2 separate regions of the Homo sapiens genome follow, and region 2 is linked to region 1. Evidence: fine-mapped expression QTL. Tissue or cell type: testis. Region 1 holds a variant in brackets; the other region holds the start of a gene. All regions are shown on one strand. Distances are between the middles of the regions.

Region 1 (5,166 bases):
TGGATGCCATGACCACGTCTACCCGCAATGGCTGGACAGAGACCTGGCTGGCTCACTGTACCCCTTCCATGCAGAGGCTGGAAGGCAATACACCACAGTGATAAACGCTGTGAACGGATGCTGCTCACACATATACAACCAGAAGCAAAAGCCATTGAGGGGACCTGCGATTGGGAGATGGGAAAACTGCATCCTATTGTCCAGTTGAAATGGGATGGGCTCACATGCAGCCCTGAAGGCCAGGCTGACAGTAGAAACATCTTCTCGCCTACCAGTCTTCCATTCTCCCTCCTGCCATGGGTATATATTCACACGTGCACGTGAACATGTGCGAGCCTGCACACGACCGCACACACATGTACACATGCTCACATACATGGACACACACACACTTGGCCAGCAGGCATTCTCCTGGTCCTCTCTGGGGAGAATCTCTCTTGGAGACTATGGCAGGCCTAGTGTCCAAGTGGGGCCTGGGTAGCAAATGGAGAAACAGGAAAGGAAGGAATAGAGGGAGACCCAAAAAATACTTATGCTTTCAGACCATGACCCCAGAACATGCACAGTCATGTCCTTCTTCTCTGGTGGGACCCAAAAGGCCAGGTCACTGCACTCACAATCACACATCTCAAATAAGCCAGGAGTCCCAGAGGGACATACCACTTTGCTCTATGTAAGACTAACAGGGCCACCCAGACAGCCTGACAATAAAACATTCCCAACGTGTGATGCCAAGCTGTGGCTCCCCACCACGTCCACGTCCACTGCATTCTCTTCCAGCCTGGGAGCCACAGGCATTTGCGCCAACTGGAGAAGTGAGCAAAGAGGGAACAGAACAGCCCACCAGGCTCAGCACAGCGTGGACCCTCAGATCCCGCCCCCAGTGTCAAACCAGCTCCTAAGAGAGCTCCATCTACACACAATGTGGACACATGGGTGAGACACATGGATGCACACACATGCACACAGGCACACACACGGACACACATTTCCCCAGCCCACTGGGAGCTCCACTTACGCAGGTAACACTGGACCAAGAACAAAATGGGGGCAAAACCCCACGGGACCGAGGCAGAGGCAGCTTGCTTCCTAGCACGTTTATTGGAGCCTTGGTTAAGCTTGGATGCGGATCAGGAGCCCCCACCAGAGCCCAGCCAGGCTGACTGGGGCAGGGCACTGCGGGGCCAATGTCCTTTTTCCCCATTATAGACAACAGTATTAAAAAAAATAAACTTTACAATAATACATTTTCGCTCATCTGTTGGGGTATTATTTCCATAGTTTTGTTGCTTAAAAAAAGGAAAGAAAGGGGAAACCACACAATATATGTATATGGATGTGTATATACATATATGTTAGGAGAGGAGCCCCGGTATGTACATACAGTTGACGTACGTCTAGGAAATGAGGAAAGAGAAAGGGGAAAGGAGGAGGAGGGAGAAGACAGCAGGAAAGCTTGAGGGCCCACGGTGCTGCAGACACACACCCGGCTGTGGTCTCTCCCCTCCCTCTCCCCAAAGGGAGGCCTGCCAAAGGACCCACGAGAAAGCAAAGAAGCCAACAAAGGACCGTTTCTCTCTGACTTCAAAATTTCTGCCACCGAGAAAGAAGCTGGTGCCCAAGTTTTAATGCCTCGCCACAAGGGCTCTCCCAGGCAGGCTGAGCTCTCAAGCCCTCCTGGAGCTGGCCCCCAGCCCCAACACTCCGTGCTACAGTCAGGGGGAGCCCAGCACGGTGCGAACCCCCTCCACCGCCATCCGTGGGGAAGTTCCCACACCAGCTGCAGACCCACCAGCCCCACCCGAGGGCAGAGAGGGAGGGCAAAACCATCTCCATCCTTGAAGCCAAAGGGCTGAAGGTGGACCCTCATGGCCAGCCCCGCTGCCCCGCTGACCGATGCCCTCTGCCAGCCCCCAGCGGGTCCCCAGAGTGGGCAGCCTGGGGAAGCAGCTGTGTTGTCCTGCCCCCAGCCAGCCTCAGGCACAGCCCAGAGTCCCTTCCGCTGCAGGCTCTTGTCCGGTCTCTGCTTCAGAAGGGTCCAGAGAGAAAAACACCAGGAGAAAGTGAAGGGCATTTCTAGAGCCTCGTGCCCTCCCCGGCACCAGAGTTTCCCCTGCCAGGGGACCCCTGGGCCAGCTCTCAGGCTGCCTGCCTGCTTGTCTGTTTGGTTTACAAAAACTTCTCCAGAGAAGAAACCTGGGAGGAGACAGGTTCAGCGACAAGGTGGGAAAAACAATTTTTTTTTTGCAAGGTGTGTGTGTGTCTGTGTGTGTTTCCATTTCGTCAGGCGGCTGTTCTTGTCTGCGTAGCTTTCAAAAAT[A/C]TTCTGACTCGGTTCCCACAGCCTACAAGGCCAGTTTCAGCATCAGGACAGACAGCACGGTCAAGGCAGCCGACGGTCTGGCTCTGCTGGGGCCTGAGTTAGGTTTGATCACCTTGTTACTCCCTGGGATGATATTTGTCGTGAGCTGAGTCCGCAGCAGGAGAAGAATCAGGAACAAAGAGAATGAAAACAAAGAAAACAGTCAGGAGGCCTGGGACCCGGCAGAGAAACGGACTCAGGAACTGGACACCTCAAGCCCCTGTCCTCTCTTCCACCCACAGGGACCCTCCTTTGCACTCTGAAGGGAGCGCTGACTCTCCCGGAGCTGGCCCAGGCAGGAGCAGAAGGGAATGCTCTGTCCCTTCTGGTCACAAGCCCTGGGGTTTGGAGAGGAGGGCAGTGGTCACCAGGATAACAGGCTACTCCTCCCTGCATCAGGGCTGAGGACCTGCGTCCCAGTGAGGAGGCAGATGGTATAAAGAGCTGAAGAAGGAGGAGAGAAGAAGAAGGAGAGGAGAGAGGAAGGAGAGGGGAAGGAGAGAGGAAGGGAAGGGGAGGGGAGGGGAGACAAGGGAGCCCACATTCGCCCTGTTTCTCAATTTCTTCCAATCCCCACTCCTCCATGAAGCCCTCCCTGAACATCTTTGTCTGAGTTTCTCTTTCTTCTGTGAGGTCTCACACTGCCTTTTCTTCTCATCTAAGTTACTGTCTTGGGTCTATAAGTCATATATATATATACGTCATATACATGAGATATATATATTTATATATACGTCATATATATGAGATATATATATATTTATATATATATTTATTTATTTTTATATATATATATATTTCCTATAGTGGGGGTTTCTTCAAGGGAAGAACTGTGTCTGTTTCCACTTCTGTGCCTCCTAAATATCACAGCAACAGTGCCGAGCAGGTGGTCGACACAACTGTCTTAAGAGAGTAAGGAAGGCATGGGAGGGCCTCTGCTCAGAGCAGCCATTTGTCTCTCCCCAAGGAGAGAGCCAGGGGCCCTGGATGCAGCCTTCGCACTCCCCCACCCCACCCCAGCAGAGTAAGTGCCCACCCTGGTCCAGAAGCTCAGCTGGCCCAGCCCATGCGATGAGATTTGAGGGCGCTGGATCTGAGGCTCGCCGGGGAAATGCCGCCCCCCACCGGCCCAGCCTTCTGCACCCATCCCCACTCTGCCCCCAACTCACCTCTGTGAAGCACATGCTTAACTCTTTGGAGTTGTTGGCCTTCAGCCCCTGCTCCTGCGAGAGAGAAGGTGCCAGTCAGGACGAGTCACCAGGCTGTTCCTGGCTGGGCTTTGTCCAGAGACTTAGATGAGGCCCCGCCATGCACTGTTGGCTCCGCTAAGCACAGCCAGCGCACACGGTGAAGAGGGTAGCTCAATTCCACCCAGCACAAAAGGCTTCTGCCCTTCTCTGACACCCTCAGCAATTAGGACCCGACTCCTCTGGCTCCTGGAGAACAGAGTTCTAACTCTGCTCCCAACTAGCGGCATTATATAGTCATCAGCCATTCGCATGTCTGTCCATATACTCAGCGCAACTCTTGGGCAGGGACCATGTCTTCTTTTCCTCACACTGAGCAGTGTCTGGTTCATAACAACAACTCAACAAATGTTTCACTAGATGCCTGCATCCATGAATGAATGAATGAATGTCACAGATCATAAACAGCCTCCAAGAGCCAACTCCTGTTAATTTGCCATGGCTGATGGAGGGCTCTATATAAAAAGATCATGAGCATTCATCTGGGCTTGAGGGGAAGAGAGGCATGATTGATTAGTGATGTCTGCCACTGGTCCATTAGGTGGATATCTGGCAACTGCACCAGCCCATTTCTGTCCTACACGGATGTGCACACCTGGGAACACTGTGGGCAAGGTGAGGGACGAGAAGGGCTGCCTTGGTAATGATTCCAAGATTGTCTACCCTGGTGTGGCCACCTGGATGCAGGGCCAGAGGGCGCACATGATGAACGGCCCTCTGTTATCATCACTGTAATGGAGATCCATGGGAACCAGCTGGGGATGCAGCGCTTCCATCCAGGATTCAAATGGCTTGTTCCCAGGGCACTTCCAGGGAAGTTCTGGCCACCAAAAGCAACTGGGAAGCCCAAGAAATTATGCCGCAATCACTGCCCTCGGCCAGAAGTATCAATAACCCCTTGGACATCACAGGCAATCTACCACCCAGGGCATCTGGTCAGCTAAACAAGACCCCAGCTGTCACATGGAGACGCTGGCCAAGAGTAGAGTCACTGCCAATGGTGGAGATAGGACCACGGTGATGATTAGCACAGCGAGAATGGAACCAGGAGTGTCCCCAGGTGCCAAGGTGATGCCCAGCCAACTCCCCAGCTGTTGCCCTCTGCAGAAGGGCACGTGCTCGACAACTCTTCCAGACCCAAGGCCTGGACTCCACTCCCCAGGACTTGGTGCTGTTCCAGCTAAGACTGTGAGGCCACGGGGAAGGGTGTCAGGGAAAAAGAACACGCCCACCCCCTCAGAGGCTGTGCTGTCATAATGGCCTCGCATCTGTCCTCCCGAGTCCCTTGGCCAATCCTTGCTCAGTCACCTCAGTCCCTACTTGTGACATCCTATGGCTTGTTGGAGTCTGTGCCTGTGGCCTGACACCTACGGACACCCAGCGTCACTTCCTACTCTCATTGTTTCAGGTGTGGCAGGCCAGTCCCCGCCCTTTCTGGGAGTCCATGTCTTATCCCTACATCCCTACCCCCAACAGAGCTCACTAAACCATTGGGAGCCCTCTCCTTTGTCCCCTCCCCATCTCCTGTGTCCCCTCCCCCCTCTCTCCCCTCCCCCTCCT
Region 2 (5,108 bases), 96 kb after region 1:
AGCAAGCCAAGGTGGTAGAACTACACCCTCACTGAAGCAGACGTGTGCTCCTTACAAACACACTCACACACACACACACATACACAGTAGTTACCCGGCTCCCTCTATGGGAGCGTCTACTCCCTGGCAGCAGCCCTGCCTGGGACTCCCGGTGGTGCACAGCCTTGCAAACAACCGCCTTTCCTCACCTCCCTCCGGAGATTGCCATTTCCCAAGCAGCTGCGATTTCACCTAGCTTTAAAGGGAGAGAGGAGCTGGGAATTCTGTGTGGAAAAGAAACTGCGTGGGGCTCAGTGGCGCCAGGCAGCCTCTCCTCCCTGTCTTGGAGGCGGCGGGGGGGGCAGTGGGGGGGGTTTGCAGAAGGAGCAGTGGTCTTTGTTCAGACCCGTTTTTCCTCCCTCGCCTCCCACCCTCTTCAACGGAGAAAGCAAACTTTGGCCTCCCTCCCGCCTCTTCCCACCAGCCACGGGGGTCCGCGGCCCCCAGAGGTGGAGGAGGGAAGGCCGGGAACGGCTGCTCACAACCCTCCGCTCCCGCCCACCCATCTGGCTCGGGGCTCGGTGGGGAGAAACTTGAAAAGTGTTCCGGGGAGTGGAGCCGCCGGTTAGGGGCTCAGGGCGTGGGGACGCGGGCTCCGTTTGCCAGGCGCGGCTGGCAGGTGGGGAGTGACTGCCAGCGCTCCCCGCGCGATGTCCAAGCGGGAGCCGCCGGAGAAACCCGCGCCCTCCACCACGACCGACTCGGGGAGCAGACCAGGAAAGGCGGACCCCGCAGGACTGTTCTCTCCCCGCCTAGGAGCCTCTCTCTCCCTCCCTTCTTGCAGATCAAGAGTTGGATATTTTTTTTTCTTAAGTTGCCGCAATTCGAACCCATTATTTCGGGGGAGATGCGCGCTATACTGGCGTGTGAGCGAGCGCGGGTGTGTGTGTGCGTGCACAGTGTCTGCGGGGCTGGTTCGGATGTTGAGTCTCCCTCCCGATCCCCCTGCGTCGCCAGCCAGCCGCGGCTCCGGTCCCTCGTCCGCGTCCCTGCCGCCCGGCCCCGCTCGGTTCGCCAGCACCGGGCCCGGCTAGCTCCGCGGCGCGCTCTCCCCGCCGACCTCCCGCCAGCCCCCCACCGGCGCTCCGCTCGCCCCCCGCCTCCCCGGCTTCTCGCCTCCCCCTCGAGCTCGCCGCCCGCAGGTACTCACCTAGAAAGAAGAAGAGGCAGAAGACGTTTGCCAAGATCATGTTAAATAAATCCCACCGTTTTTTTGTCTTTCTCCCTTGGGTAAAAAAAAATAATAGTAGTAACAACAACAATAATAATAGGCAAGCAGTGGTAATCAGCCCCAAATCCAATGCGGAGATCCCAGCTAGTCCACCCGATGAAGATCCCGAGTCCTGCGATTCTCGCCTCTGGCTGGAGGGGGTGGGGTGAGAGGCGGGCGATGGGCTGCTGCCTCTCGACGCCCCCCTTGCCCGCTACAATCAAATATACGCGTATCTGTGTATCGGCTTTCTAAGCCAACAGCCCAGTCCTGGGGTCAGCCCTCCCCTCCAATCGTCCGGGAAGGCGTGAGTCCCCGCGGGTCCAATTCCCCTGCGCTTCCCAGGAGGGGCCTGGGGAGGTGGGGAGAGAGGCGATTTGCGAGTGAAGGGCTGGAAGGAAGCGGCGAGGGAGGGGGTCGGAATAAAATGCAAATAGAAAAGAAATCCACAGACGGGTGTCAGCGCCCAAGAACAATCCAGTCGGAGCTTCGAGGACGAGAGACTGGAGTCGCTTCTTTCGCACCAAGACGAAGACAAGATTCAAAAAAATCTTCTCCCGCTAACCCTTGCTCGGCTCACTTTTTTCTAATGGAATTCCAGTGACCGTGTGTCTCTGCGTGCGTGTGTCTTTCTCTCTCCTCTCTCTCTCTCTCCTCTCCCTCGCTCGCTCTTTGCTCTCGCTCTCTCCAGCTCTCCCTCGCTCTCCTCTCTCCCTCCCCCTTCTCCCACTCTCCCTGCTCCTCCCTCCGCCCGCCCCCTTCTCCCTTCGCGGCTCCCTCGCCCGGGCTCTCGCGCCAGCGCCCCTCTCCTCCGCCCCGGGCTCGGCGCTCGGGCTCCCAGGCGGCTGGCGGCGCGGGGCGCGGGGCGCGGGAGCGCGGCGGAGCTACGATGCTCTGCAGCGGCGGCGGCGACAAGGCGAAGGCGGTGGCGGTGGCGGTGGCGGCGGCGGCGGCGCCGGGGATCGCGGGCCGAGAGGAGAGCCCAGCCGCCGGCTCCCTCGGCTCAATCGCCCGCCCTTCCTGGGACTGACCTGCTGCCTTGGCCGGAAACTGACTGGCTCCCCCGGCTACGGCTCGGGCTCGAACCCACTCAAGCGTCGGCACCCTCCTCCTCCTCCCCCCGCAGCTCTCCCCACCCTGGGGACCGGCTGCGCCCTCCAACCCCCACTGCCCCTGCCCCCGCCCCCTGCGCCGCTGGGTCTGGGAAGCCTGGGGAGCTGAGCTGAGGCTGGAGGGCGCGGAGTCCGTGGGGCCCGAGCCATCCGGGGGCTCGGGGGGCAGGGCGTTAGAAAAACCCCAGCCGGTGGCCCGGGTCTGAGGGGGGCTCCACCCTCCGTGGGCTAAGGCGTCCCTGCGCCCAGGAGCCGAGGCCGACAAAGCGTCTCCCCGATGGTGCCAGGGAAAGGAATTATCCCCTTCGGCGCCGGCCCCGCGCGCCCCCGAACCCAACGCATCCTGCCGGCCCCGGCCTAGCCCCGCGCGCACATACACGTGTGCTCTCCGCGCGGACCTCGGGAACTTTGCCCTCACGCCCGCGGCGCGCTTGCCTCCCGCCCGCCCCGGCCTCCACCCCTTCGAGATGCCCCTTCCCCAGCCGGTCTCCCCTCCCCCCGGCTCGGGAAGAAGCCTGCTGGGCCAGGGCGCCCTGACCACCTCCTCGGAGGCCGGCAAACCTGCCTGAACCGCCCCAGAGGAATCGGGCAGGGGCTCGCACCCCACCCCGGCAGGAGGGCCCCGAGACCGACCCGGGCCGGGGCTCCGCAGCCGGCTGGGCTCCGAGGAGCTCGTCCCGAGGCAGCTCCCGGCTCCCTAGGCTCCGGGGTTGGGGGGTTCCTCCTCCCCTAGCCGGGAAGGGGGCGATTGATCCATCTGTCGGTGGGCCGGGCTCACCGGCGTGTTTTAGTCGCAGAATTTACAATAAACGCCCAGAAGGACCTAAAAGGAAGCGTCTGGCTGGGAAAGGGCTGGAGGAGAGGTGCGGCTGCGGTCACGTTCCGGCGAGAGCGGGAGAGGCGCGGGGTCGCGGTCGCGCGAGGGCTCACACCCACGCAGCCCGGCATCCCCCGGCCCTCGCGCCACGTTCCTCGCACTCAGCTCGGCGCGCACACACGGTGTCCTGGGGTGGGGTACACGCAGCGCCTCAGAAACTTTTCGTGCTGCCCAAAACAATCTGGGCTGCACGTAACATGAATTTGATAGTACCGTTTAAGATGCATTCTTAAATAACAAGACTCTGGAATCCAGTAAATGCTAGAAATCGACTTGGACGAGAAGGGAGGGGTCACTAACAAAACCAGCAGCCTTAGCTATTGGGAAAGCTAGAGGGAGCAACTTCCATCTTGAGGATTTAGGCGGGAAGGCGGCTGCTCCCGGCCTTGGAAGCACAGAGAGCGAGTCTCCTGTGAACGCCTCTTTCCTGTGGTCCGTCCTGGGGCATCGACCTTCCTCCCTCCATCTTCTCCCCCAGCCATCCAGTTGTGCCTGCTTCGAGCCTAGGCCCTAGCTGGGTAGTGACGAGTCTGGGACAGAGGGCTTAGGGATTGGAGTTGGGGAAAGCCCCCTTCAGGCCTGCCCTCCCTGTCATTCCTCCAAGCCTCTCATGTTCTAGGAAGTGACTTCGCATCTGACAAGGTCTCTTGGCTTTTTTTCCAAAAATTGGGGAGCATAAGGAACCGGCTTTGGATAAGTGTAGGTTAAAAGATAAAACTTGACAGGAATTACACTGCCAGGCAGGCTTGGCCTGGAGGCCCGAGGCTGGGAGCCTGGCCTAAATGAATGTCCCCCCTCTCATCTCCTCGACTTCCAGGGTCTTCTGGTTGTCCAAATACTCCCCACCACCACCCATTTCGGAATCTCACGCAGGCCTTCCCCCTTCCAAGGACCCTGCTCCAAACTCCAGAATTTCTGCTCAGCATATCCCTCTCCCCTTCCCCACAAAAAAGAATTTCACTTTCTTTTAACTTCATTTGAGCATAATGAGAGAAATTCTCTGAATCATATATGTAGTTCTCCCCTCCCACCTATCCAGAAAATGGGGCTGAGAAAGCAGCAATGAAGCCCTGGGGATGGTTCTCACTGAGCTCCCACGGGAGTAGGAAAGAGGATTCCGGTAGCAGGAGGTAAGTGGCCCTTCTGCGACCCAAGACCACCCAGCCATCCCAAGAACAGTAGAGAACACCAATCAGTCACCACCAGCATTCAGCTTGTGTGACTGCAGGGCACTCTGACCTTGGACCCTCTCTTACCTACTGCCTATACAGACGTATCCCATGACACCCCACCCTCTGCCCACCCCAACACTCAACCCAAACTGCTCTTAAAAATGGCATCATCCCTTATTTCCTGAGCATCTGCCATGAGGAAGACCCCCTGCCTTGTGCCGGGATCTACAGAGGAAACACAGTTGAACATGTACTATAACACCTTATAGATAAGAGGACTTCTGAACCTCAGTCATCTCATCTATAAAATGGGGATTAAAAAAGATAAACCAACGTTGTAGAAATTACATAAGATACTACACAAAGCGGCTAGTACAATGCCTGGCCCATATAAAGTTGTTTACTGCTTTGCTCTGGGTTCTAGAAGAAGAATTAGGGACCTATGACAAGGCAATAAAACCTAAGGGGCAAATGAGAAGCAGAAACAAAAAGCTACAGGGGTTCAAGGGCAACAGAGACTATTAAGCAGCTGTCGTAAGAGGTAGTCATAGGAAAATGTGAAGTCTCTAGCAGGTAGGAGGCAAGCCCTAGGCTCACCAACAGACTTCCACACATTCCGTAGTGCCTGAGTCCTTTTACAGCCTTCCTGGCTCATTCCAGTGCTCCTGAGTTCACCAGCAGCTGAGCCTCCTGCCCAC

The links. PIP is the estimated chance that this variant, and not a neighbour inherited with it, causes the effect.
Region 2: it holds the start of GFRA2, and the variant in region 1 is fine-mapped to the expression of GFRA2 in testis (GTEx, PIP 0.97). The same link has a PIP of 0.9 or more in thyroid and whole blood.

Annotation. Positions count from the first base shown.
Region 1 is chr8:21,690,936-21,696,101 of GRCh38, forward strand. GFRA2 (GDNF family receptor alpha 2) reads right to left here. Exons shown (of 9, transcript NM_001495.5): 8 at 3,529-3,582; 9 at 1-2,465. The coding sequence ends at 2,343. Among named protein-coding and RNA genes, the nearest start is that of GFRA2, 95 kb to the right of the region's middle. RefSeq lists an enhancer at 1,884-2,384. The variant A/C (reference allele first, on the strand shown) is at 2,321.
Region 2 is chr8:21,786,931-21,792,038 of GRCh38, forward strand. It overlaps GFRA2 (GDNF family receptor alpha 2), which reads right to left and starts at 1,945. Exons shown (of 9, transcript NM_001495.5): 1 at 1,190-1,945. The coding sequence starts at 1,229.